Homo sapiens: one gene and its partners. The protein of the gene in region 6 interacts with the protein of the main gene of each other region in a biochemical or structural test. Each region holds a gene or a part of one and is shown on either strand. Other genes may lie near its edges.

Region 1 (4,091 bases), on a different chromosome or scaffold from region 6:
CCAGCATAAAATTATAGATAATATGGGCACATTTTACTATTATGCTGGTACCCCTATATATTCCAATATTCTTAAAATGGTGTTCAGCAAAGGCGATGATTCTATCTCCAAGTTAGTTCATTCCTTTAACAGTTTCATTTCAGCCTGTGTAACTGCTTTAGGTGGGGTGGAGGATCTAACGAAAAGGTCTATTTCGTTGTCAGGTAAAATTCTGCGTGGTTTTACGTAACTTTCCTGGCATAGATAGTGAAATAGTATATCTGGTGGGAAACCTCTAAGGATAGAGGATCTGGGCCTATAAATGACCTGAACCAAAGTTGTTTTTGTTTGTGACTGTTCACTTCCAAAAACAGACCAAAAAAGCTATGCAGATGTGGGTTATGTCAATCCTCCATCAATAACATTTAACAGATGCTTCCGAATGCCTGCTCCAAGCTCCTGACACTACTGGATGTGCTGTCTTTCTGTCCTTCACCGTCCCATTGCCAGGGACACAAGGGCCAGGCTTTTGGTCCATGCCCAGGGCGTTTGTCCACACCAGATTCCTTCGCTGCATCTTTTTTTTTAAACACCAACCAGAGCCCGGCGGATTGATGCACACTGTGGAAGACACGCAGAAGCCCAAGTAAGTCCCTGGCCCTGGAGCATTTGCGGTGTGCTCAGTGACGAAGGGGCGGAAATTCTTGTCATGTTAAATCCATGGCTCTCAGCACACTTCTCAATTCCAGAATCGCCCACAACGATTTTCAAAATTGAAAAGGAACTGGGATTTGTGCCTTGAGAGGGTCCCCAAACCTTGGAGCCACTCAGGGTGCTGGCTTTTGGCTACACATTCCCACCAAGAGATTTCATTCTTGCAATTTTCAAGGCCAAACATCTCTTAATCAGCGAATCATTCCTCAAAGGGCTGGAGGCGTTCCCAGCCCTGACCAGTTCCCTCAGCCACCCTCAGGTGCTGCCTTCACTTCCAGCAGAACTCTCCCTAGCCCTCCTGGACATCGCTGTCAAGCAAGTGTCTTGACCTTCCAAGAAAGTCACCTTCTTCCGTCAGCACTGGTTTCACAGTATGCCATGTCTCTTATCTCCAACTTGTAGCAAATTGTCCCTCTTTCCACACTGTGCTCCTTGACCCGTCCAGCTCCACATTCCACCAACAGACCATCCGAATCACCCACAGCTGCAGCTGTAGAAAAAAGCAAACAAACAAAAGCAGTTGCTCGTTGATCAGAATCGACCAGCATGCATCTAGGGCCCATAGCAGCCTAAAGGCTGAGAAGCTGAGTTACTCAATAGCAGAAAAGTCCAAAGCAGTGTGAGGACAACCGCCAGGTGGTGGCTCAGAGGAGGACACAGTCGCTGTGGGCAGGTGGTCAGGGCGCAGGAGGGAATGAGCTGTGGATTTTTAGTAATCTACAACAATCAGGCAGTTCCAGGACACAGGGAAGTGAGTGTGAACAGCCAATGGACCCGGAGCCGAGAGCCTGGGCAGGCGTAGGCTGGACTATGGACGCCCTGCAACCCTGCCAGGCTGGGAAGGGGAGGCTTGATCCTGAGCGCGTGTTAGGAAGGAGATGCCCAGGTTCAGGTGTATCGTGCATTTTTTTTCCACAGTGCAGAAATGACATTTCTGGTTGGTCTTGAATGTCTGCTCTGGCCAAGCCACCTCCTCTCATGCTAGCTAACCAAGTGGCACGTGTGCCCACGCAGGCCATTCTAAGGAACACTGTAATTGTCTAGACAATTTTCTCTCAAATACTCCGTCCTGGAAGCGTCTGGTTGGCAGAAGAGGGAAGGCAGGAGGGTGGCAGCGTCCCGGCTGAGTCCTCTTGCACATGGGAGCTGGAGTCCAGCCAGGCTCCAGAGCGGCTCCGGCTGGCAAGGGACCTGAACAGGAAGATGAGACTCGAGGTTTTCTGCATGTGAGTTTGGGGTGAAGCTGTGGATGTGGGGTGGGCGGGCTGGGGTTGACAGTCATCTGTTTTGGAAGCCCTTAGGCCCTGCCGGTTAGATGTGCATGCAGCCAGGGGTCCGAGCGTTCTCCAGAGGAAGGGACCGTGCTGGCCCCTACAGGAAAGGAAGCTGCAGGCTGGTCTGGGTGGCCTCCAGAGGACCCCACGCAGCTGGCATGAGGGCAGCCAGGCTCCTAATGAGCCAGGAACGACAATAATCCAGTTCCTGAGTGTTTGGGCAGAACTCTTTTCATCGCTTACCAGGCCTGTTTGGGAGGAAGGACTGAATCTGTTCAGTGTTTTGAGGCCACAGCTCAGCTCGGGGAGCTCAGCGCCACTGCCCCCTTCTGTCTGCTGGGACTCCCTCGTTTTTCTGCAAAGAGGGCCAGGCAGACTGTTCCGAGTTTCCAGACTTGGGAACATTCTCCTGCTCCCTAAATACACCCCTGCCCTCCAACACAGACACATATTGGCATGGCAGGAGAGGGGGGGAAGTGATAGATCTCTCTCAATGAGGGTAAAAAATGGTGCTGAAGAGGAGAAATGCCATGCAATTTGAGACGTGAGTTAATCCTTCAGTTACCTGGGGCCCCACATCCCCAACAGCTGCCACGGCTTCCCAGGATGGGCAGGAGGGACCCAGGCAAAATAGAAAAGGAACCAGGATTAGTGTCCTGAGACCGTCCCCAAACCTTGGAGTGCTGTCCTCACTGGCTTTAACTGGGTGCTGGCTTTAATTCCCGCAGTGTTCAAAGCCAAACATCTCTTGATCACTGGGTTTCATTTTTGAAGTCTTGGGAAACCAGAGGACAGTTCATCATCGTGTGCTTCCAGGGGCTGGGCCCAGGTCTGCTGTGAAAAGATGCTGTCATCTGAGCTCAGCGTTCATGCCCGTGTCTCTCAGTCACTCACTGGAGTTGGGGACGGGCTTATCTGTTAGGATGATAAAACTTCCATAGCATACGCCTTGCATTTGCTGGTATCTGTCCCAAAGGGCTTGTCAGTTTTTACATATATTATCTCAGCATCTTCTAGATGTCTCTGCAGAGGAGCTATTCCTATGTAGACAGTCATTCCTGTGTAGACAGTGAGTAATAGGCTGAGCAGCTTGCCCAAGATTAGTCAGAATTGAAGCCAGCGCCAGCCCCCATCCTTATCTGGCTCCAATCTGATTTGCATATCTCAAGCTTACTGTGTTTTATTTACCCATCTGTATAAAGGGTTCAATGCTTCTTAAGACATCTACAGAAAAATCTATAAAAAGGAAGACACGTAGATTCTTCCTTTGGTGCTATGAAAATGTCACTATTAAATATTTCCTGTTTTCCAGTTAGTTTTTAGTTTTTAGGTAAAGATCAATAAAATGGAATATGTCCATTATTGTTTTTAAAAAAATCATTCTGTTGCCTATATATCAGAAAAGATCTTTCATTACGCAGAGTAAGAAGTCTAAAAGTCTGTTTTCAAGGCTAGTGCCAATGTGTTTTTAAAACGCAGGTGGCCAGCCTTGCCAGTTCAGGAATGATTCTTGGCGTTTTCAAACTCAAACGTTCCTCCTTCCAGCTAATCTGTGGATTCTTCACTCGCACCATTTGCAGGACAAGTGGCTGCCAGGGCCAGGGACTTTTCACCGGGTGACCAACAGCAACATAGTGTGGGGAATTTTCTACTCTGGGCCATTTGCTGAGAGGGCTCCTGGGCCTAAGCTGCTACCACCTCCTTTATCTCTCCCTGTCGGGTGACTCTATAAAAAGACAGGAGAAGCTGAGGCTCATTCACTCACTTTGTCCACTTCATTCCCAAGAGAAGTGTCGGGGGGACCTGCCAGGCTTAGGGGAAGCTCTGAGCTGAGCCCCTTGTGCAAAGAGGCGAGCCACCCAGAGGCAGCTGTTCCCTTCTAGGCCTGGAAGTGCACATGCTCATCTACAGCTTTCTTGGAAGAAGAAAGAAACAAAAACTGAGATTTAGAACACCAGGTCTGTTTCCACTGGCGGCCACTCTTGGGCACTGGAGACCAGCAAGAGCTTTGTTTTTAAAAGGCTCTTCCATGGCAGATATTCGCAGAGGCATCAGGGCTACACTTAAATGAAGGTAAAGTAAACATATGAAACCATATTTTCGATTCTACAGAACACTGCAAGA
Region 2 (3,500 bases), on a different chromosome or scaffold from region 6:
GTCAACTGCTAATTTAGGCTATAGCTTTGAGATGGCTAAACCTCATTTAGTGTTGTATAATATGTAGTGTTGTAAAGGCAGTACCAAAGAATGAACAAGACTGTTGAACAACTGCAATGTGGGAGTTCTTCAGAGGATGCTCCTAATGAGACAGTTTCATCATCCTTAGCATTAAAAGCATATAGTATATGCTTTCAGCTGGTCACAATCATAAATAGTTGTAACTCTGTTTAGTAAGGTACATTCTTTATGTACTTTCTAGGGTATTTTTTTCTTCACTAAACAGAAAAAGAATCGCTAAGTGTGTAAGAATAGGAATGGCCATATATTTATGATTCTAGACAATTTGTAGAAGTGGTATAGAAACTCAGTCCCAGAGAGGGAAATGAAGGGGGAAAAAAAGCTGACAAGATTATTAAGCTTTAGTGGCATATATTCAAGATTATTTATGAGGGACAATTTTTACATTGCAATTTTGATGCAATGTATAAATGGATTCATTTTGATTGATCAATTTTTATTAAAATATTTGAGGGAGATGGAAATATAAAATGTATATATTGTTAGTAGTAAAAATATAAGGAAATCCTTGTATTCTTTTGCTCACCAACTTCATTATTTGTAAAATCAAATACTCAACTAAATTTTCTACTGACAGTAAAAATTGGATATGACACAGTGTCAATGTTATTTCCAGTAAGTACATGAACTCCTTATGAGTCAGTGAAATAAGTAGCTATATCCCAAATTATCCTGATAGTACTTCTGGCTATTTGGAGATATCTTATAGACCTTCAAATTAATTTTTAATATTAATCTTATAAAAATATTTTTGGAGAAAATCAAATACTCATAATTTAGCATTTGAAACTGACCTTCTTCAATTGGAAATTGCATCCAATCCTCTTGTAGTTTTTATATTTTAAAACATAAACTATTTTCAAGGTAAATAGAGGCAAATAAGTTATTGGAAAAAGCCATAGGCAGAAAAGTAGGCCAATAATTGTTCTAATTTTTCCTCCATCTGTTATTCTAAAATAAGTTATTTCTCAGCTCCTACCTGTTCACTTGCAGGGCCTGGAAATATTTCATAATTTGCAGTTATTTGAGTCCCCAGACCATCTCTACTTTTTTGCCCACTGAAATATAACAAAAACCCCTGAATGCTTTAGGGCCCCTGTTATTAACTTTATTATTAATTTTCCTAGTCCGTGTCACACCCAGTCTTTCCATTTTTTTTTCTTACATCTTTTCCAACTCTGAGACTCATTCAAAATATCCACATGACTAAGTTATTTTTCTAGGACTCAGCTCCCTACATTACATTCTTCCAGTAATCTTTAATCTCTCTGGGTCAAATAAAATGATTATGACTTTTCAGAGTTAACCAATAGGCCCCATTTTGCTTGTCTTCTCTTACCATCTCTGTGATTTAGCTCCAGCCACTTTTGTATTATTATGATTCTTAAAATAATCTAAATTTTTAAGATAGCCTTTTCTCAACCCATTCCACAATCAACTGCTCTACTCTTTCCTGTTTACTATAAATCATTTCTTCAAGAGGCATTCTCTGACTTCTAATTTCTGTCCTGATGACTCAGCCATCTTGAGGATAGAAAATAAAATACATTCTTTTAGGTATAAAAAGCAAAACCAATGTTTTGTATACAGTCCTGTAATAGAGGAAAATGTAGTGATTATATAAAGTCTAGTCAGTATAAAAGTTAAATGCTGTAAAGGAGAATGTGTTGGATAAGGCAAAGATGTTTTGACAGGTACAATACTCTTTAGTAATTCTTTTTTCCCGTCATAGGACCCAGAGCTGAGGTTGAAATTTGTCTTTGTTACATAAAGGAAAATATCAAAATTTTGAGTTAAACTGTCTTGAGAGAGAGATTGGAAATAATTTTCTGGCAGGAACTGCAAATAAGCTTAAGTGATCAAATTGTATCACTTCCTTTTGAAAACTTAGGGTTTTTTTTCAATTGAAAGGTGACTAAATTGGCACCAACAATTGTCTACTTTGGATTTGACTTTTTTGGGGAACAGGAATTCTTGTCATTTTATGTAAAGAAGAAATATATCTTTTCCATATGTAGAATTTCGTTCAGAAGAAATGTTATTTTTCTTATAGTGTTATTAACATTTGCTCCTTAATGTAACACTCATGATTTAGTGCAGATTAGGAACAAGGAGTATATTTATGTAGATATATTTGCTCCATAGATATTATTTTCTCAGTGCTTTTGCATGGAGGGTGCTTTAATGGGTTGTTTTAAATTAATTATTCTCTGCTTTGGGGAAATTAGCCTCTGTAAGGGATGGTAGTGACATTGACAAACTTAGGCAAAGACAGAGAGAGGTGCCAACTAGCACATGTAGTAATTTTTTAAAGGCTGTATATGAGCACCATTGGAAAGAGAAGATGATAATTTTATTGAATCAGGAAGGGATCTGTGAGGAGGGTGGGGTTCTAGCAACTATTTAAGCTACTTATTTAATTAAGGCATAATCTAAGAGGGATGTATACTAAATGTAGCGGCACAGCAAGAAACTCTAGAGTTGAAATGGGGTTATTAACTAAAGGGGGGTTGTATATAGGTTTGTCTGGATGAAGGAGAGAGGTGGGCAGTAGAGGGAAAGTGAGGGAGGAGCATGAGTAGGTGGCACAAAAGTACAAGAACAAATCTGCATTTCACAAAGACAATAAAACTCTCATCATGTCCTGAGTTTAAATAAATGCCACATTATAAAACTTTAGCTGCCAAAAATAAGCCCACAAAGAATGTGTATTGAATTGGTACAGCTGTTTCAAATCTGTTTTTCAGGAATGATTTGAAAATAATGTTAAATTATTTTGAAGACAAATCATTAACATGTTGTTAGATATTTCGAATTTTACTGAACCAAGTTCTTATATGAAGAATGGAAATAGACTTTTAAGTATTAATACTGTTCTTAAAGCAATGATAAATTATCATTTTTATTTATAACAGAGCAACCCTAGATTAGGGCTCAATTTGTTCTTTTTTTTTTTTTTTTTTTTTGAGATAGAGTCTTGCTCTTTCACCCAGGCTGGAGTGCAGTGGCACAATCTCAGCTCACTGCAACCTCCGCCTCCTGGGTTCAAGTGATTCTCATGCCTCAACCTCTCAAGTAGCTGGGATTACAGGCACCCACCACCACCCCTGGCTAATTTTTGTATTTTTTAGTAGACACGGGATTTCACCATGTTGGCCAAGCTGGTCTTGAACTCCTGACCTCAAGTGATCCACCTGCCTCGGCCTCCTAAAGTGTTGGGATTACAGGCGTGAGCCACTGCACCCAGCCTCAATTTGTTCTTAATGACTTTTAGCTTTCTATGTGTCTTCCCTGCAGTACCTCACACATAAGGGTTATTGTGAAGAATAAAGTTATTAGCTTCTAAAAAGAGTACTAAAAGAGTGGATCATCTGTACTAATTTTAAAAAAGGTTGGGGGAAGGGAGTATAAAGTAATTT
Region 3 (4,126 bases), on a different chromosome or scaffold from region 6:
CCAGCATCTCTTCGCCTCAAACAGTTCTGATTAGGAAGAAACAAAGGAAACATGAACATACAGGGGTGACAAAAGAACCAGAAAGTCTACTCTAAGGATTCAAATTACCCATCTGAAGAGTTCACTAAACTTAGAAAACCAAAATTTTACTGGATGACCTGAAGTAACGAAAAACTTCGAGAATTCAAGAATATGTCCTATGTTTAATTCCACTTTCTCACATTTTGTGGTGATATAAAGTTTCTTCATAAAAACAAGACTTGTTTTTAGTTTCAACTAATATATACAAACTGACTTTTCATAGATAGGGACAAGAAAAATGGACTGAGACTTTAAATCATCTGGTGTATAACCAGTCTTTTAAAAAACAATACTTCACAGTAGACTCTTTAATTTGAAATGAGAGTAAGAGATTTCCTATAATACACTATAATCTTAGGTGAGATTTTCTGGCCAAATGTCTTGGCCTGCAGAGTTTTGTTTTCTATTAGTTGCTTTGTGGGGTTTAATCAGTCTTAGAGCCTTTGAAAGTGAGAAACTAATACTAATAGCCAGTGCCAAGTATAATGTGAGCTGGCAGAATCCAAAACCCTCATGGGAAGGCCCATCGAGATTTGAACGCCTCTGGGTTTCCAAAGGTGACAGATGGATTGTGCTAACTCACACTGCCACCTAGTGCTTCCTATTGCTGGAAAAACGGGAGAACTCAAAAAGCATCTGGTTCAAATCATGAATGCCAAGTCTACAAATGAAAATAGTACCATAAATACTGACTGGACTGGAATTCTCTTGACATACTGCTTTGCTCCCCTCAAGCGGACAATAGGAATGCGCCACTTACAATCTTGAGATTCATGCAGACAAAAAGGTGCAATTGCACAAAACAATAAAATGTAAAAGTCACCAGCCATAACCAGTGAGAACTGGCTCAAATGAATGTTACATAGGAATCTGGTCTGTGACCGAAGCAGCACAGTAAAATGCCAAAACAGAGATATTACACAAACCACAGTGTACATCCTTACAAAACACATGCATATGAATATCTACGCCTCTTGTCTTTTGACTTAAAAAGCTTGGAGACATAAATTGTATGTTTGTTTGCTACAATTAATTTCTTCAGGAAAAATGAACCTATCAAGTAAAAGCACTTTGGTGCTTAAAAACACACACACACACACAGAGAAAAGAAATGATCTGAAAAGAGATAATAGAAGAAAACACATGACAACTGCACAGCATCACCACTTTATTGTGGGAGGGCCACTACCTGGCATGTGTCTAGTTTAGATAGTATCACTTGGTCAGGTGAGGACGTTTGCTGTTTCCAAAACTACATTTTAAGGTCACTGAAAACAAAGCTGTCGCCATTATTCTGAGGCGGGGTCAAAAGCTGTTCATCAATACATTAAGCTACAAAGTTCTTTTTCTTCCCCATTAATGAAGACTGCATAGAAAGACTGAGACACTGACAGAAACCCAGTAAGATAAATGCTTACCGAGAGCAGGTTCTCTTTTCTCCCACCTCCACCACCAATCACAGCTGGCAGAACGTATAAAATATGAGAGGAGGGGACACAGTCTCCAGCCAAATTTCCATCATTTCCATCTAGTTTGAGCTGCCTTATACAAAGGGCTTCTATTTGAAATTAAGCACCAGCCTGGGTGAAAGCTGGCATGCTGGGGAGAGCTCTCGGAGAGGCACGGCTCCCTACAGGCGCTCCAGTGTAATCGTAAAACTCGGCCCTGGACAGTTAAGCACGCCACAAACCCCCTCCTTGGCTTTTGGCCCCTCTCGGCGGGAGGAGATAAAGTCAAGAAAACCTCCAAATAAAATGGTATTTTAAGTGGGAGTTTGCAAACCGCTGGGGAGAGGGCATATACTCATCTAACTAAGGAGACCGAACGTTAGAACTAGGCGACTCCAAGAATCCCGAAGGCAGAGGAGGAGGGAAGAGCGGCCACCCCCTTCCCGCAATCCGCGCGAGGTCGCCAGACACAAAGCGGGCACACGCCAGAAACGCGTGGGCGTCGGCAGCCCACACGCCGCGGGCACTCAGGAAGGGGATCAGGGAGGTATGGGGCGGTCGGGGGCGTCCCATAACAGCGAGCATCTCCCCAGCCAGAGTCAACCTCGCGCCCGCCCCAGGCCACCTGCCCGACCTCCAGCCCCTGGGCAGGAACAGCCGTGCTCCACCTTCGGGCACGACCTACCAATTGCTTTCTTAGCAGCAAGATGTTCTCCTCCAAGAACTTCTCCTCCAGGCGACTGCGCTGCGCCGCCTCCCCCAGTAGCTCCCCAGCGCGGGGCGCAGCGGCTCCCGCACCCCCGGCGCCGCGCAGGGCGCCCCTGACCAGCAGCTCTTGGCGCTGGCGCAGGTACTCCAGCTCCGCCAGCCCGGCCAGCGTGGCCTCCTGCCGCTCCCGGGTGCGCTGCCGCTCGGTGTCTGCCTCGCCCTTCTCCCGCCAGCGCCCCTCGGGCTCCGCCGTGCGCTGCTCGCCTCGGGCCGGCGCCGGAGGCTCCAGCTCCTTCGCCGTCCCGGCCGGACTCGGCTTCATGGCCCCCAGTCGGGCAGCGAGAGCCGTCACCGCAGCCGGGCCGCCCAGGCGGAGGAGCAGGGCGCTAGGGCTGCGGCCGCGGGTGGGCTCATGCCGCCCTGTGGCGGGGCGCGGCGCTGGCGGGGACGGTGGCTAGAAGCCCTCGAGTCCTGCGCGCGACCGCCGGCTGCTGCTGTCCCGGCCCGGGCAGCGCCGTCCGCTGTCGCCGCGCGTCCCTCGCCGCGGCCCGGCAGCTGATAACGCCCTGCCCGGCGCTACGTCACGCGCGGCGGCCCTGCAAACCCCCGCCTGGCGCCCGCCTCCCCGCGCCGGCCCCTCGGCTGCGACGCTTGCGCCCCCAGGCTTCCCCTCCTCTGTCAGGCGCGCCGCCCGGCCCCCAGAGCCGCCTCCTCCTCGCTCGGCCCTCCCCGCCCCTCCTCGCCCCTCCCCGCCTCCTCCCCCGCTCTCTTCGCGGGCCTCCTCGCCCCCTTTTCGGGTTTACTGCACCCGATTTTGCCCTCGCTCCTCATTGGCTCTTTCTCGTCGCCCAAAGCTCGGGGCGAGCGCCTGGAGCCCCAGCATCCTGTTACAGTCGGCCGCGCAGGCAGGGGCCGCGACGGGACGCGGCAGTTGGGCTCTCCGGAGAACTTTCTGAAACTCGACCAAGTTGCAGCACAGTCTTAACCCTTTCCCCACACGGCCACTCCTCATTTCCACTCACACCGAGTTAGGTTTCTTTCACTTCCCAAGCAAGGTATTGCAAGTGTATTCACAGACACTGTGGGGTTGGTTCCTTAACTCCACTTTGTAAAGGCAAGCAATACAGAGCACAATGCAGTGTTCTAAAACTTAAGTTTTGTTGTCGTTTTAATTTTTTAACGTCGGTCTTACGATGGACGGCATTTAAAATTAGGCAGGAGGATGTCGTTGTATAGCGAGAGGTTGCATCAATTCTTTTACAAGCCTACGATTTGAGTGCGCGCGCGTGCGCGCTTTGGTTTTTGTTTGAGCTTTTATTATTACTTAGTCTGCGTTTACAATAAGAGCTCTGACTCAGAAATCAGACTGTCTGGATTTGTATCCCAGTTTCACCCCTAAATAGCTGTGCGGGCAACTTACTCCCTTCTCTGTGTACGTTCCCCCCACTGTAAAAGGGAGCAGCTGCTATGGGAACCTGCTGTTGAAGAATTATAATAGTATGCAGCATATGCTATATATTGTGGGGGCTGTGCACTTACAACGTGGCTAGCACATAGATAGTAAAGGTGATATGAGTTGTAGCTTTTCTCCAGAGGGATTTATAAGTCTTCCCTCTTGAAGTATCATGTATTGGTCATCTCTGCTTGGAACACACTACTCCAGACCCCTATCCCACTGAAATTTCCGGTGGGATAGGGGTCTGAAAATTCCACTAGCTGGCTTATCTGTGGAAAAGTACCACATATATCTTTAAAAGCAGTACATCCAAGAACCTCGGAAATTCAATCCAGCAAGTCACAATTGCTGAAGTTCAGGCAAAGTGTTGTGTGAAAGAGTGCATCCTATATCATTATTTCAGACACTTGCACTTTTGCCCATCTGCTTACCC
Region 4 (3,968 bases), on a different chromosome or scaffold from region 6:
ACATCAGAGTTTTGATCACATCAGAGCTTTGATCACAGCTCTGATGATTTCTCTGGGAACTGAGAGCCTAACACAAGTCATGTCCACTTTAAGACTTTTAACATACTGAAAAGTTATGTTACAGAGTGCTGGTCCCCCTGCAACACGTTCACTCACATTGGCTGACGTTTTAATTCTTTGCCAATCTGAGGGGAAGAAATGTCAACTCTTTGTTTGCTCTTTTAATGTCAGTCATGTCCTTTTCCTTTTACCGGTCATTCCGGTTTACTCACAATCCTACAAATCAATCCTGCTCATTCTTAATTTTCCAGTATTGTTCCTCAGATTGTTTCACCAGAAAAGTTCTCCCCCTTATCCACTCTTCACCTAACAATTTCTACCCATCCGAATCCTTCTGCATTTATTGCTTCCAGGAATTTGGCACTTAGGACACCCTTGTCCTTACATTGTTCATGCATGTATATTTCGTCTTCAATAAAAAATTTAGTTGCTCAAGGGCAAGGGCCCCATAGAGTCTCAATATTCTAATTGCCTGGTGTTGCTTAATAAATTAGATTCGGAAGGGTCCCCTCCAGGGAGGGGAGCAAAGGGCAAATTACCTTAGGGGCTGGGAGTGCAGAAGCCAAACCTTTGAGATTGTGAAAACAAGACGGCCCCGAGACGATCCAGTAGCAGGCATTCAAGCAAGAAAAACTCAAATATTGTTCCCAATAATGCCTGACTAATGCCAAATACCAAGTAAGGGCCCAGGCAGTCCTGACAGCCTGCAGTGCCCCAGGATAAAACTAACCCTGAGGGGTGCTAGCCCACGGTGACCCCCTGTCTAGACTCTGGATCTCTATTTTTAGGTCGAAGTGCTTTATTCTTGACTCCCGAATTCCCGGAAACTATTACCAAAGCAGCTTAGTTTTCTCTCCACCCTGCCTGGGTCACAAATATGACGGCGAGCCAGTCCTTTCCCGCAGGACGCCTCAGGCTTCCGGGATGGTAGGCCAAGGGCTTAGCAAGAAAAAAGGCGGCCTCGGGGAACCTGTTCTGTTAGGTTCCGCCAGGGCCTCCCCCTGACCTCTCGAAGGCCAAGGGCTGCCCATGAACGCCGAGGCTCCGCCCCGCGGCCCGCCGATTGGCCCCAGCCGCCCTGGTGACTCGACGCACTTCCGCCCCGGGCGCGGCTCGGGCCACGCCCACCTGTCCTGCAGCACTGGATGCTTTGTGAGTTGGGGATTGTTGCGTCCCATATCTGGACCCAGAAGGGACTTCCCTGCTCGGCTGGCTCTCGGTTTCTCTGCTTTCCTCCGGAGAAATAACAGCGTCTTCCGCGCCGCGCATGGAGCCTCCCGGCCGCCGCGAGTGTCCCTTTCCTTCCTGGCGCTTTCCTGGGTTGCTTCTGGCGGCCATGGTGTTGCTGCTGTACTCCTTCTCCGGTAGGACCCCGGGGCGGGTTCGCGCGTCCGCGGCGAGACTAGAGCTCTCCTCAGTCGGGCAAGAGTCGCGGGGCGGGGCTCACAGCAGGCCGTGCCTGTTTGGGGACAGGGTTCTCTGAGGGGTGCAGTGCTCAGATCCCGGGGGTATGTGGCGGGGAATGCGGGGACCACGCAGAGCCCGAGGTGAAGCTTGTTTGGTGGCGTCGTGTGCGCGGCCAGCATTTACGCAGGATCTGGCTGCGTCCCTAAAAAAAGCGTGAATCGTGTTTTCGGGATTGAGCCAGTCGGCCAGGGGAGCGCGGACTGGGCGCCCTAGGTGAGGGCTTGTTCTGGAGTGCACAGGTGCGTGGGAGTGTTGCTAGGGCCCGTGCTGTGTCCGTGGTGAGAGTTTGCCCTGTGTTCCCTTGGTGCCTTGGTGAGTGGGGTGTTCATTAGGGCTTGGACAGTACCCGCGGTAAGGGTTGCAGTGCGTCTGCTGTGCCCCATGTGCTGGGCTGGGCGAGCAGGGGCCTGGCCAGGTGTTGCTGGGAGCGTGCTGTGCGTAAGTGGCCTGTGTGCAGAGTTCACTGTGGGCAAGACAGCTCAACTGTTTGCTTTGAATGGAGTGAGCGCGGACTCTGGGGCTAGGGAGGGCATGTTGAGTGAGAGCAGGCTCTCGGTGCCTGGGGTTAGAGAGGTGGTAAGGGCGCGCCATGCTTTTTGTGCCTTCTGTGAACAGTCTCCGTGTTACCTGAGCTCCTATTAGTTTGTAAATGGCTGCTTTTTTGGGGGGTGGGTGGGCCATCGAGTCTTCTTCCTGTTCCCAACCAATATAGATAGTATCTGATTCCATTGCCTAATGGCTTTTTGACATTGTTTTCCTTCTTTTCATTACTTTGAGTCATATTTGAGAGATGTGAAACAACCTAAAAAACAATGGTAGCCAAACCTAGTGAGAAATTAGTATCCTAACAAAGGAAGGCAGATAATGTTAATCTTGTTTTCCCCTGCAGCTCATAAGCTAAAGCTTAAGGCCTATCCCACTAAATTTATTTTGTATTTCATTGAATGGAATCAATACTTTTAAAAATGCATGCTAGGCCAGGCGCAGTGGCTCACGCCTGTGATCCCAGCGCTTTGGGAGGCCCAGGCGGGGTGATTGCCTGTGCCCAGGAGTTCAAGATCAACCTGGGCAACATGGCAAAACCTTGTCTCTACAAAAAAATACAAAAATTAGCTGGGCATGGTGGTTTATGCCCGTGGTCCCAGCTACTCTGGGGGCCGAGGTAGGAGATTCACTTGAGCCCAGGAGGTGAAGGCTGCAGTGAGCTGTGATCATGCCACTGCACTCCAGCCTAGATGACAGAGTGAGACCCTGTCAAAACAAAACAAACAAACAAAAAAAAAACCCGCTAAGAAATACATGCTTATTGTGCGATACGAACAGAATCAAAAGACAGCTATTTTTAATATTTTGGCATATTTGTTTCTGCCTTCATGTGCGCGTCATGTGTATCTATGTCCAAATTATATTTAGGATCCAATAACATGTATAGTTTCTACGTTGCATTTTTTTCCTTAGGAGCATTCATTCAACGAATATGGGTCTTGTATGTCTGGTGCTATTACACTGGTAGGCAATAACAAACCATTCCTATTTTCTTGATCCTTTTTTCACTATTTGTTTACACACACATTCATGCAGGAAGATAAGCAGGGACTTTGTTTTGCTCAATGATAAGTGCTCAGTGCCGGGAACACAGTAGATAACCAATAAATTATTTGCTAAAATGTATTGGGATTGGCAGACATTAAAATCCAAAACATAATAGTGACAAATAAATTATGAACCAAGGGAAGTGCTCTGGAGGCAAGCAGTATAATTTTCAGATATAAATCTGACAGCATTTAACAAATGATTGGAGAGAGGGAAGGCTTCTCTGCTCATCAAACAGACTTTGGGGCATCTGTGCTTGCTGTTCCCTCAGCCCAGGAACATTCTCCTCCTGACCTGCTGCAGAAACAGTCTCGCTCTTCTGCAAACTCAGCTGGAATGTTACACCCTCAGAGACCTTCTCTGATCACCCCACCTCGCGACCCCCCCATCTCAGGTTGAACACATACAACCCAGTTCAAGTCCCTCTTCACTTGTAATCACCCTTTTAAAATGACCTTTTCTGTTCTTTGTCTCACCCTGTCAGAATGCAGGGATCCTGTCTGTCTTGTCGCACTTGTGGTTCCAAAAGCCCGATTTGTTTACCTCTGTATCTGTTAAATACCAGAAAATTAAATATACTATTTGGCTGGGGCTTAGAGCCTAGGAAAAAGTTCCTCCTGCCTCCAAGAGGAAGGTTCTTTAAAGAGCTATGCTCAGGATGGTCTTTCTGCGGTACCTAAAAAGCTAGGGCAGTGGCAGCTGAGAGCCAGAAAGGATCTGTCTCCCCTATTTGTTGACTCTGCAGGGCTTCCAGTACTTCAGTCTTGCATCTCACTGATCATTAAAACGTTCATTTTGAAGGAGGGTAATGGGAGTAGGGAGTAGTGGTGATAAGAAGAAAACAAAAG
Region 5 (3,249 bases), on a different chromosome or scaffold from region 6:
ATTTGTGTTTCATTCCCCACTGTGGCTTCAACAATTAGAACAGTGCCTAACATATAGATAGGCACTCAACAAATATTTGGTGAATGAAAGAATGAACACAGTAATGCTGTAAACCATTTTCCTTAATTTGATTTCCCCTGGCTGTAAAAGTTTTAGTAAAGCAAGATACTTCTTCCTTGAAAGACAGAAACGTAGCCATTCTTCTGTGTTCTCAAACTTTCACTGTCATCATCTTCATTTTCCTTACCATTATCCTCACAACTACATTACGAACCCAGCACTCTGCTAAACACTGTAACTCATACTGAAACTTTTAAAACATGCTCTGATTCATTTCCTTTTTGAATGCAGAGATGGTTATTATTTTTGCAAGAAACACTGTTGTTATCAATACTTATCTCCAGACTCTGTAGGGAATTCACTTAATGAAGAGAAGGTGACAGAATGACAGGTAATTATGTGAGGCTCTTAGTGACTAAATGGAAGAGGCTGACCACTACAAACAGAGAGACAAGTCTTCCTTTCTGATGGAGACACCTATAATTATTTCAAGGATACAGTAAAAACCAACAATATCTGAAATCATTTAGGTCAGATTTCCGGATTTGTCAATTTGCAGGCTAGTTAGGGTATTGACATTTCTGGTAAGTCACCAGAACTCATAGTCCAAAACATCAGATAATCCTAAATCAATTGAAATCTAAAGTAATTAGTACAAGATTTTAGACTGTCTTTGCTCTTGATCAGAGGGAGAGAGGGGACCCTAACAATGTCTGGCTTTATCTCGGAAATGTCCAACAATGATAGACTGGATTAAGAAAATGTGGCACATATACACAATGGAATACTATGCAGCCATAAAAAATGATGAGTTCATGTCCTTTGTAGGGACATGGATGAAATTGGAAATCATCATTCTCAGTAAACTATCGCAAGAACAAAAAACCAAACACCTCATATTCTCACTCATAGGTGGGAATTGAACAATGAGAACACATGGACACAGGAAGGGGAACATCACACTCTGGGGACTGTTGTGGGGTAGGGGGAGGCGGGAGGGATAGCACTGGGAGATATACCTAATGCTAGATGACGAGTTAGTGGGTGCAGCGCACCAGCATGGCACATATATACATATGTAACTAACCTGCACATCGTGCACATGTACCCTAAAACTTAAAGTATAATAATAATAAATAAATAAATAAAATCCTTTTGTGTCCTCTGAGCACCCTCCAGGAGAGTAGATACGTTAAAAGTTTGCCCTGGGGAATTCCCAAGGCATATATACTGCCTGCTGAAAACCCAGGTCAGCAATAACTGGAGAGAAGAAGAAAACCAGTGCTTGCAGACCCAGGGCCTACTGAATCTTTTCATTTCTCTCTCAGACAGATCATTTGCATCTTCCAGAGAAAGACTGGATAGCTTAGTACTTCAGTTGTGTTCCAGAGTAGGAAATTATGGATAAGAGAATCTTGAGAAAGACTCATTTAACCATTCTGCTCTGCTCCAAGGGTAAAAGTGACATGACAAAGCAGATTTCTCTCACAAGATATGCTGTGAGAAAGGGACTATGAATGGAGAATAACATAGCTGAAATGCAAAGAATTACCAGCTACGGTTCCATAAAAGTAGAACGCTGCAGTGATTCAAATTGTGACATGCAAATTATAACTTGAATTCTCAAGATTATTTAAATAGTATATATTTAGGCCTGTCTTTTAAATCTAATATTCTAATATTAAATTAGAGTATTAAATTTTAAATTTTATTTTAAACTCAAAATGTTTCTTTTTTTTTTATTTTTTGGAGTTAGACAGGACATGCTCCTTGACAGCATGATAAAAACTTTCTTTCAAAGATTATAAAAATCTAGCCATTTGCTATTTTCTTATCTAGTGGAACCCTTCATTCAACATGGGATTGAAACTTTCCAAACCGTCATTATTTTCTTTAGTTCTAGTACTACACATTTCTCCCTCTACTAGGGACTTTCTGAAAGGGCTAATTTCCATAATTTGCTTACAGAAGTTATTAATGCAACAAAAACTGTGTTCTTCGTAAAGCAGCTTCTCCATCTTAAAATCCTGTTTACATTTCCCACGATGGCAAAAAGATTCTATAATCCTATGAAAAAAGACCAAAATAGTATTTAGTAAATATATCTTTAAGTTAAGCCGAGGATAATCGATTAGGATAATTTTTTTTACAAATTTACTTGTGATTTTTTTTTTCACTTTTAATATAGCAAATTCAATCTAAATGCTCCAAGGAATGCAGTCCTGGGCAAATGAAGAAAACTACAAGAAGTCAACACATCTGTTGCTATGAATGTCAGAACTGTCCTGAAAATCATTACACTAATCAGACAGGTAATCACAGTCACTCCACATACACCTGAATCATTCCTCTTAGGCTTTTTTTTTCTTTGCATGAATTTTATTTTGGTTTGTTTTTCATTTGAAAAAATTTAAAAAGCTTCCCATGCTCCTGTGAAATTAAATTCCAGTGAAATTTCATTTTATCTTGGAATTTGCTCTATTATGTCAACAGGTGCACAGCAAATAAATAATAGAGATGTAAAAGTTACTTTACTTCCAAGGGAAAATGTTATCGCTTCGCTCATATTTTTTAAAGTATGCAACTCTTAAAGTGATGCAAGTTCTCTGTCAATTTTGTCCATGTATCCCTATACAGATGTGCTTGGCTTGTAACTGAGGTACAAAAAAAATACAAATAAGTAAATGTTGAATTAACTAAACATAATAGAAACCCAGAGGCACCCGGAGTTAAGAAACAGGTGTGCACATCCTGGCACTTTTATTATTTCTACCAGGAAACAAAAGTTAAACCTAAAAGAAACTTCTGTGAGACAAGGGACCAACTATCAACAGGGATGAGATGCTAGTAAATGACTGTTTGCCAACCCTATCTTTAAAAATTTCACAAAATGAAAGCAAAATACACAAATTAAAGTACAAGAGTGAGGTCAGCAGCCTTAGGAGCCTAAAAAGAAACTATGAGCACTTTCCCTGGAGTTAAGCCTAATTTAAAAGCATCAGATGTTGTTGTTTATTAGAGCATTCCCATTCATCTTGTAGAAAAGCTGAGAACTCCGGAACTGGAATAGTCCCCAAATGCCTATTCTTTTTGCTTACTGGCTTCAAGAAGAGAAGTATACCAATGAAAATATTCCAAGATTCATGTTCTGTTATGTGTCACACAAAAAATGCCATTTATTCCAACCTG
Region 6 (3,500 bases):
ACACCTTGATCTTCTCATCCAGACCACAGTGCTTTACCTACCATCTATGTGCTGACAGAAGCTGAACTTCTATTCTGAACTCTAATTTTTCCCTTAAATCCACACTAATATATGCAGTTCTCCACTTATCACCTATATGTCTAATATGCGTTCAGATGTAACATGCCCAAAACCAAAATCTTGATCTTTACTTCCAAACCTGCTTTTCCCATAATTTCTCCATTTGCAGAGCAACACGTTTTTTCCAGTTATTGAAATCTACTTTCAAATTCAACCCCTTTCCATATAGAAAACTTTGTAACTTCTCCTTCTTTCAATCCAATTCTCATAAAGCTCATTCTCAATAGTCTAACCAGAATCATCATTTTCTGACTTTTGTCAATGCCTGTCACTCCTCTGCTCAAAAATTTCCCATGGTTTCCCATGTCGCTCATAGTAAAACTCATAAAGGCTCATGCAGCATGCAAAGTGTTTTCTTTGATCTCATTGTCTGCCAAGTACTTCTTAATTCATTCCATTCCACACAAAATAACCCTTGCTTTTCTTCTGACTCTCCTGGAATGTCCCTATCTCTGGGCCTTTAAAATTATAATTCTTGTGTCTGGAATATTTCCCCACAAACATGGAAATGGCTCACTCCATCTTCCCTTTCAAGTTCCATATACAAGGCAACATGAATTTTCCTTCCCACGGCCCTTTGAGTAGTCTTTGCTGTCTCCTCCGCTTTATTTCTTGATGGTAACTGTCATATTCTGACATATTGTCCTTAATTTATTTCTGCCCTTAGTCACATTTTGCCTCCTGTCACTGGAAAGTAACTCCCATCAGGACTGTTTTGTTCCTTTGTTTGTTTTTGTCTGTTTTATTCACTGCTATCTTTTAACAACAACAAAAAAGAGTAGATGCATAGGAAGCATTTGGTATTTTATTGAATGGCTGACTCTTTACATTTTTGAAGATAGCTTATATTTAGTGATATCTGAGGGATCATGATGATCATAAGACTTTTTTTACAAGGGAAACTTGTAAGTCTGTGACTTGGTGGAAGCTGTCGGTGGATGGATAGATAGATGTTCATCATCAGTGGATGTTTGATAGGTGGTAAGAATGCAGGTCTAGTACTCACATAAGAAATTAGTAAATGAGCAGTGTGAGTTTACATAAAAGGAATCGTTGACACCCTAGGAGTGGAAATGGTTGCCAAGGCTGATCACTGAGGCAGAGGAAAGATGTGTGGGCATTGTAATGAAGAGTCAAACTTGGATCCATCTTGGTCTCCTGCTTTCTCTTCTAATCACCTGCTATTATTTCCCGTCTACCATTACTTCAAAATGGGTATAAAAAGTTTAAAGTGTCAATCTATATCAAATTATTGATAAATAATTGACAAGGTGGGAGTAATTGAAAATTTTTATTTTTCTAAAGATGCCTGGATACTTAGATATTTAAGGGTTGTTTATTTTTGGTAACCAAAATATAACCTCTATTTTAATAAAGAGATGGCAGAATTACCTTTGAGAAAAAGTTATTTGCCATACTATTTTCACCCAATTGTAACACTCAACTATATTCTCCTCCTTACCAAGAATGAATTGCTTATTTTTGTTGTTGTTGTTTTATTTTTTAATAACATGCAAGAACATTTTACATTTTCCCAAAATTTCCAAACCTTTCACATTAGGTGGATTTAATTTGGGAAGATAGAGAAAGTATTTAAAATGTGTTTGGGAAATAAACTGGCTACACCAAGCATTATGGGGTGAATGGAGGATTTCCAGGGTGAGTTAAGGCAAAGAGAAACTTGCTTATTTACAAATAACATGACTAGTGCCACTGAAGCAGATTATTATAAATAAAGCTTCTAAGATCATTATGATGGAGTTACTAAAAACTTTTTTGGTGGAAATATCTAAGGGAATTAGAATAGTTAAATGAATAACCTCTTCTATTCTCTAGGACAAGTTGCTATTTCACAAAGGAAACTATCAAATATTGAAGGTTTCAAGGGAGCTACTGAGAAAGCATAGCTATGTCTTCTATATTATAGGGACACCTGAATATATATTATGGGGTATCGTACTCCTGTTGCATGACCTGAGAAAATACTCCTCGGATGAATTATTTTATTTAAATAGCTGTCTGGTACACGACAGATATTACAATGTGTCATAAAGTATTGAATATTTTGTAATATTTTCCACTGCCACATGTAAGTTGTAAACACAGTCATGTACATATCAATTATAATTCTAAATTCTTTATTACATATATGTAGTGAAATATATAATAAAATAGCAATGAGTTTGTCAGAAATTTCATATGCTTTATTACCCTCTAGTTACCCTCCTTGTGATAAGTTCATCGTATTGATTTCATTAAGCACACAAATGTATTAGTCTTTCAATCATCTTGAAATTAAGACATGTTTATGTGATTATTGATGGTCTTTAATAATAATACTAGCAACATCATCTTTCTAAATGTATTCTGAGCATAGCTTTAAGATTTTATAGTTATTTTGACAAAATTATGGTTTGAAATAACTTTTTCTGTTTTCACTGCAATATATATAGTTTGGTTGCCACTGGTAATAAATGGGTTACAAATTTCCTTTGGTATTTAAATGAGAAACCTATTTCTAAAAATCCAAAATGAATTAGTGAGCTCTAGTTTATTTTTTTTTTTTTTAGTAAATATGCCACATAAACCATTAAACAGCCAGCCACAATTAAAATTAATGCAGGAATTATTTTTTGAAAGTGAACCATTTGGCTCCTCTGGTTATAAGAGTTCATATCCCCTTACTTCTAGCATTTCTTATTCAGTTTCTTATGGCAAATATTAACTCATTCTAGAGAATACTCAAGAATAGTTTTAAATTGCCCTAATCCATATTTATCATCTGATGTGTGCACAAAGAGATAAAAATACTTTTAAAAGTACTTCCAAGTTTATCTTTAATTGTACATTATCAAGAGTAAAATTTTGGCAAAATATATTTATCAATCAGTGCTAAAAGAACATTCATAGATGGTAAGAGTGATTAGTCCTCCTACCTCTTATCCACCATGTATTGAAATAAATTTTCACTACTTACGATGTTTACACGTTGACCAAAAATGTCTACATTTGAAATTAGTTTCCACATGTTACATATCATAGATTCTAGATAAGTGTATTGAAATTGAAAAAAAATCTAGCTATTATAAATTTTTAAAGACATTAATTTTTATGTTATCTGACCTGTTTCTCTTTCCCTTTCAGGAGTTGGAATTTTCTAATTTATTTGCTGTTCTTCACTGCATTCATTCCTTCTTTGCTGCCAAGGTAGCTTGTTTGGACCCTCTATTTTTAGGCAATCAAGCTACTGCTTCTACTGCTGCCAGCTCTGCTACCACGAGCAAAGCAAAGTATACAACTTGACATACTGAACTCTTCATTGACACACCCCATGACTGTATAAGCAGGACACATTTACTCATCATTTTAGACCCTAGAGA
Region 7 (3,970 bases), on a different chromosome or scaffold from region 6:
TGTTAGCCTGCAGCAGTCTCTTTTCTGCCCGATTCAACTAACTAAACTTGTCTTCCTTATTTCTTCCATTATTTTTTTTTTTTACTTCAGAAACCTATTCAAAACTTTAGAGTCAAAGTTGCAGACCCACGTGTGTGTTGTGATTGTACACTCCAGTATGCCCACTGCTTTGCCTTTTACTATTCTAATTTGTGCTGCCTGCTTATTGTCCAATGTGCCATGGGCTGTAATCTAGGATGAGATTATGAAAAAAAACTCCTTGTTGATTTTAAATGTGCAGCCATAGTAAAATCACTGATCTAGACCTACTTCATTCTCTTTAAAGACAATCAAACCTAGTGTTTTGTACGATTTTTCAGAGCTTCTAATATGTAACTTCCCATATAGTCTTTTTCAATTCCTTCATTTATTTGATGCACATTCAATATAAAATTTCATCTAATTTTATTTTGAAGAAAGTGAAAAACCATAAAAAGTAAGAAGTGGGGCACTTATATGGACTTATATGGAAACTAACTTCTCCAAAACTTAAATACTTTCTTCAGTTATAAAAATTAGGAGGCAGAATTTAAATCAACAAAGAAACTCAAAAATTAAGTATTATATCAATCCCTAAATTATTACACCATGCTTCCTGAAATACAATTATAAACAGATTTGAATTTTCAGTCAACTATATAAATTACCTATTTACACACAAATTAAAACTAAATATGTCTATTTGCAAGGAAATAAAAAGTGTGTTATTTTAAAGTTTTTAACTTTATTATCAGTACAAGATAACTTGTCAGGATGTGCCTAGTCCTCTCAAGTATATTAATCACAGTGTGTGCTGTGAACTAAATTACATTAGAAGCATGTAAGAAATGCAGAATTTCAAGCTCCACTCAGACCTATTGCATTAGAATCTGCATTTTAGCAGAGATAATCCTTGTGCACAAATATTTACCACCAATTGACAATTTTAAAATTGACAGGGAATTCGTTTACAGGAAAATTAGACAACTGGGGAAATGTCAAGTGTAATTGCTGGTTTTTTCCAAGAATTTGGTCCCTGAGAAATGGAAATCCCGGGAGAGTATTTGTCTCCATGTTTTTTGGTACCTCGCATATCTTAACCCAGGGCAAGCCTTTATAGCACAGCAATCAGAGCTGCTCAGGTGAGGATGCTTGCCACCCTGAAGCTGGAGAAACAAAAACTGCAAAGTCATAATTAGAAATACTGACCTGTGATGCAGACCAGCTTCAAAGTGACTCTGAGACTGAGGGCTGGGCCCTGCCCTCTCAACACTAAAGATTCCAGAATGCTGGGTGTCTATGACTCTCAACACCAACATTAATGCCATGTCAGGAAGAGAACATTCCAAGCCAACATTCTCCATGTCAGGAAGAGGAAATTGCAAGTAAAATCAAGCATTGAAGTTTTTAGGCAGTGGAAAGGTGAGTGTTTTCATCCATCACTTGTGATTTGAGACTATTAGATCTGGAAATAATCTTTGCAAAAAATCAGGAAACTATTATTCCTCATTATCTTTACTTATTCAATTATTTATGAAATGCTCTTTTAAACCCTCTTCAGTGGGCCAGCCACTTTGCTAGTTACTAGAGATACAGAGGAGAATAGCTCGGGTCCATCACTGGGCTTATAGAATAACTCAGTCAAAGAAAATGTGCTGTCTGGAAATCAGAGTTTTTGGAGCTTACAGTAGGAAGATCAACTTAATTACAATAAACTGGACAATATTTACATGATGACTTCATTTTAAATGAGATTTGAAAAGTAAATATTTACCAGACATCAGAAAGACAGGTGTTGGTAAGACTATCTAATGTAAAAGAAATAGCTAATGAAAAGGCTCAGTGAATGTGACAGACTCTAGGAACTGAAAGAAGCGAAGTGTTCCTGTAGCCAAGGAGGAGGATCACAGGAACTAAAAGTGAAGAGGGACAAGAGATAGCATGAATCTGTGTACTTTATCCTAAGTGTAATTAAGGCAACCTGTTCATCAGTGTCCCTGAAAGTGAATCATCATCTGATTTCTGGTCCAGTGTATTTTATGACCAGGAATAAGTAGCTCATTCAACTTCTAAGAACTCAAATACTAGAATATTTTCCTTTACATTTATTTTTATTTTTTTTCAGTAGTAAATTATTTATATATTTTTATTATTATTATACTTTAAGTTTTAGGGTACATGTGCACACTGTGCAGGTTAGTTACATTTATTAAAAGATGTATTCATAAATCTTTCAAATGCCACACACAAAATTAAAGCTTATCCTTGCTCTTCTTAGGATACATGAAAATGCTCACTAATTATCTCATTGCCTGCAAATATTTCCCAAGCTCTTGACAGCTTTTGTGTGCCTTCCATCTTATCAATGTCTTTCTTTTAAAAATATATCCATTGGAAAACGATGGACTCCAGGTGTAATATGATAAGTGTGGAATGGTGCTTTCTAACCTCATGAGCACATAGAAGATGGTCATATTAATATGGCATAATGAAGTTACTGGATGAGAAAGCTTGTGGCTGATGGTGACCAGTGAACTGGCTCTGAATGCCACAGTCTTATCTGTGAGAACCCGAGGGCTACAGACCAATACCTCTGAACCATTATGAACCTTTCCCTACATTTCAGTTCCATGGCATATGAGTTGGAAGCTATGTTACAGATCTTACATGGATTGCTAGTCATCATAGTCTAGCCATTATTTTTTTTATAAATGAAATCTGAATCTCCCCTTGCTTTATCCATCATCCACTATTCTATGGACTTCATTTAGTTAATACAGAAGTACACTTTTATGTTTTCTTATGAATTGTATTCAAACCAGATATGTTGTACATAAAGAATTAATCATTTAAACTAAGACTGGAAGTTAAGTATTTTTCTCACTCAATTTTAGCTTGTTTTTTTTAGCTATTTTCAGTGTCTAGAACCAACCACATTTTGCTGGTTGTCATAATATTTTAGGACTGAAGTTACAGTAACTTGGGAATATTGTTAACCAAAGGGTGTGTGTAGACCATACCATGGGGAATTGTCAATTCCCAAATCCATGTATAACTCACAAAAAGAAAGTTTCACAGTTTAATTCCATAGAACTCTTCCCAGCTGTAATCCCTACTATGATGATTACAATTAAAGTAATCAAAAACGTAAATGACTAAAAAAGTAGAGAAAAATGCTTTTGATATTCATGATGTTCAGTGACCTTACCTTATTCTTTGATATTATATAATTTATAACCCTACTTAGCTGGCTTTGGTCAGACCTTTTATTGCTACTGTCATATATACCCAATTTTTAACACGCAGGAGTAAACATAATAGACCAGGAGCCCTATATTTTTTATTTGTTCTTGTATTAACAGAAGACTATATTTTGTGTACATGTAAAGTATTTTTCAGAGCCTCATATTGATCCTATAGTGATCACATGAGGACACATAAATAATAGAAAATACATTTTTAAATGTATATATAACAGAATAGCTCTGAATTCGTTCGGGAAACCATTCAAAAGTTGCATGCCTCTCTAACTTTACTTCAGTTATTGAAATAATTGACACATCATCCCTTATTATGGTGAATATTAGACTTAGTATCAAGTCTCTACAACAGTATTTCTCTTCTTCTTAACACAGTCCTGTTGGGTTGTATAAACAATCAATTCACGTATTCATTGTATTGGCTATTTCTTCCAGTTTTATTTTATCTGTACATTAAATGATCACTCATTTCCATTTTAATCTTAACTAAATTATTGAAAACATTGTTAACAGGATAGAATTAGATTGAGAGTTCTATTAAAGCAGGGAATGTGTCATTTTACTTTTCATGCATTTTGGCTTCGGGTCAGTATTCGACCCCTTGTCTCTCAGTAATGATGGCTGAATAAAAGAGCGAGCTAGAATAGGTGCAGCAAACCACCATGGCACATGTATATCTATGTAACAAACCT

What was found.
Region 1: the proteins of SNTG1 (region 6) and CLDN14 interact in a test that uses a peptide from one of them, tested with the Homo sapiens proteins (one large-scale study listed by IntAct).
Region 2: the proteins of SNTG1 (region 6) and CNKSR2 interact in a test that uses a peptide from one of them, tested with the Homo sapiens proteins (one large-scale study listed by IntAct).
Region 3: the proteins of SNTG1 (region 6) and DACT1 interact in a test that uses a peptide from one of them, tested with the Homo sapiens proteins (one large-scale study listed by IntAct).
Region 4: the proteins of SNTG1 (region 6) and CD46 interact in a test that uses a peptide from one of them, tested with the Homo sapiens proteins (one large-scale study listed by IntAct).
Region 5: the proteins of SNTG1 (region 6) and GPRC6A interact in a test that uses a peptide from one of them, tested with the Homo sapiens proteins (one large-scale study listed by IntAct).
Region 7: the proteins of SNTG1 (region 6) and OR8G1 interact in a test that uses a peptide from one of them, tested with the Homo sapiens proteins (one large-scale study listed by IntAct).

The regions. Positions count from the first base shown.
Region 1 is NC_000021.9:36,477,323-36,481,413, reverse strand, and holds the start of CLDN14 (claudin-14), read left to right. Parts: upstream 1-1,291; 5' UTR 1,292-1,919; exon of another isoform or gene 1,920-4,040; intron 4,041-4,091.
Region 2 is NC_000023.11:21,377,418-21,380,917, forward strand, and holds part of CNKSR2 (connector enhancer of kinase suppressor of ras 2), read left to right. Parts: intron 1-3,500.
Region 3 is NC_000014.9:58,636,636-58,640,761, reverse strand, and holds the start of DACT1 (dapper homolog 1), read right to left. Parts: upstream 2,801-4,126; 5' UTR 2,560-2,800; coding exon 2,215-2,559; intron 1,926-2,214; exon of another isoform or gene 1,500-1,925; intron 1,350-1,499; exon of another isoform or gene 1,271-1,349; intron 27-1,270; coding exon 1-26.
Region 4 is NC_000001.11:207,750,886-207,754,853, forward strand, and holds the start of CD46 (membrane cofactor protein isoform 3 precursor), read left to right. Parts: upstream 1-1,168; 5' UTR 1,169-1,327; coding exon 1,328-1,424; intron 1,425-3,968. UniProt on the Homo sapiens protein: Acts as a cofactor for complement factor I, a serine protease which protects autologous cells against complement-mediated injury by cleaving C3b and C4b deposited on host tissue.
Region 5 is NC_000006.12:116,794,835-116,798,083, reverse strand, and holds part of GPRC6A (G-protein coupled receptor family C group 6 member A isoform 1 precursor), read left to right. Parts: intron 1-2,248; coding exon 2,249-2,372; intron 2,373-3,249. UniProt on the Homo sapiens protein: Receptor activated by multiple ligands, including osteocalcin (BGLAP), basic amino acids, and various cations. Activated by amino acids with a preference for basic amino acids such as L-Lys, L-Arg and L-ornithine but also by small and polar amino acids.
Region 6 is NC_000008.11:50,789,407-50,792,906, forward strand, and holds part of SNTG1 (gamma-1-syntrophin), read left to right. Parts: intron 1-3,264; coding exon 3,265-3,423; 3' UTR 3,424-3,500. UniProt on the Homo sapiens protein: Adapter protein that binds to and probably organizes the subcellular localization of a variety of proteins. May link various receptors to the actin cytoskeleton and the dystrophin glycoprotein complex.
Region 7 is NC_000011.10:124,239,925-124,243,894, forward strand, and holds the start of OR8G1 (olfactory receptor 8G1), read left to right. Parts: upstream 1-1,170; 5' UTR 1,171-1,440; intron 1,441-3,970. UniProt on the Homo sapiens protein: Odorant receptor.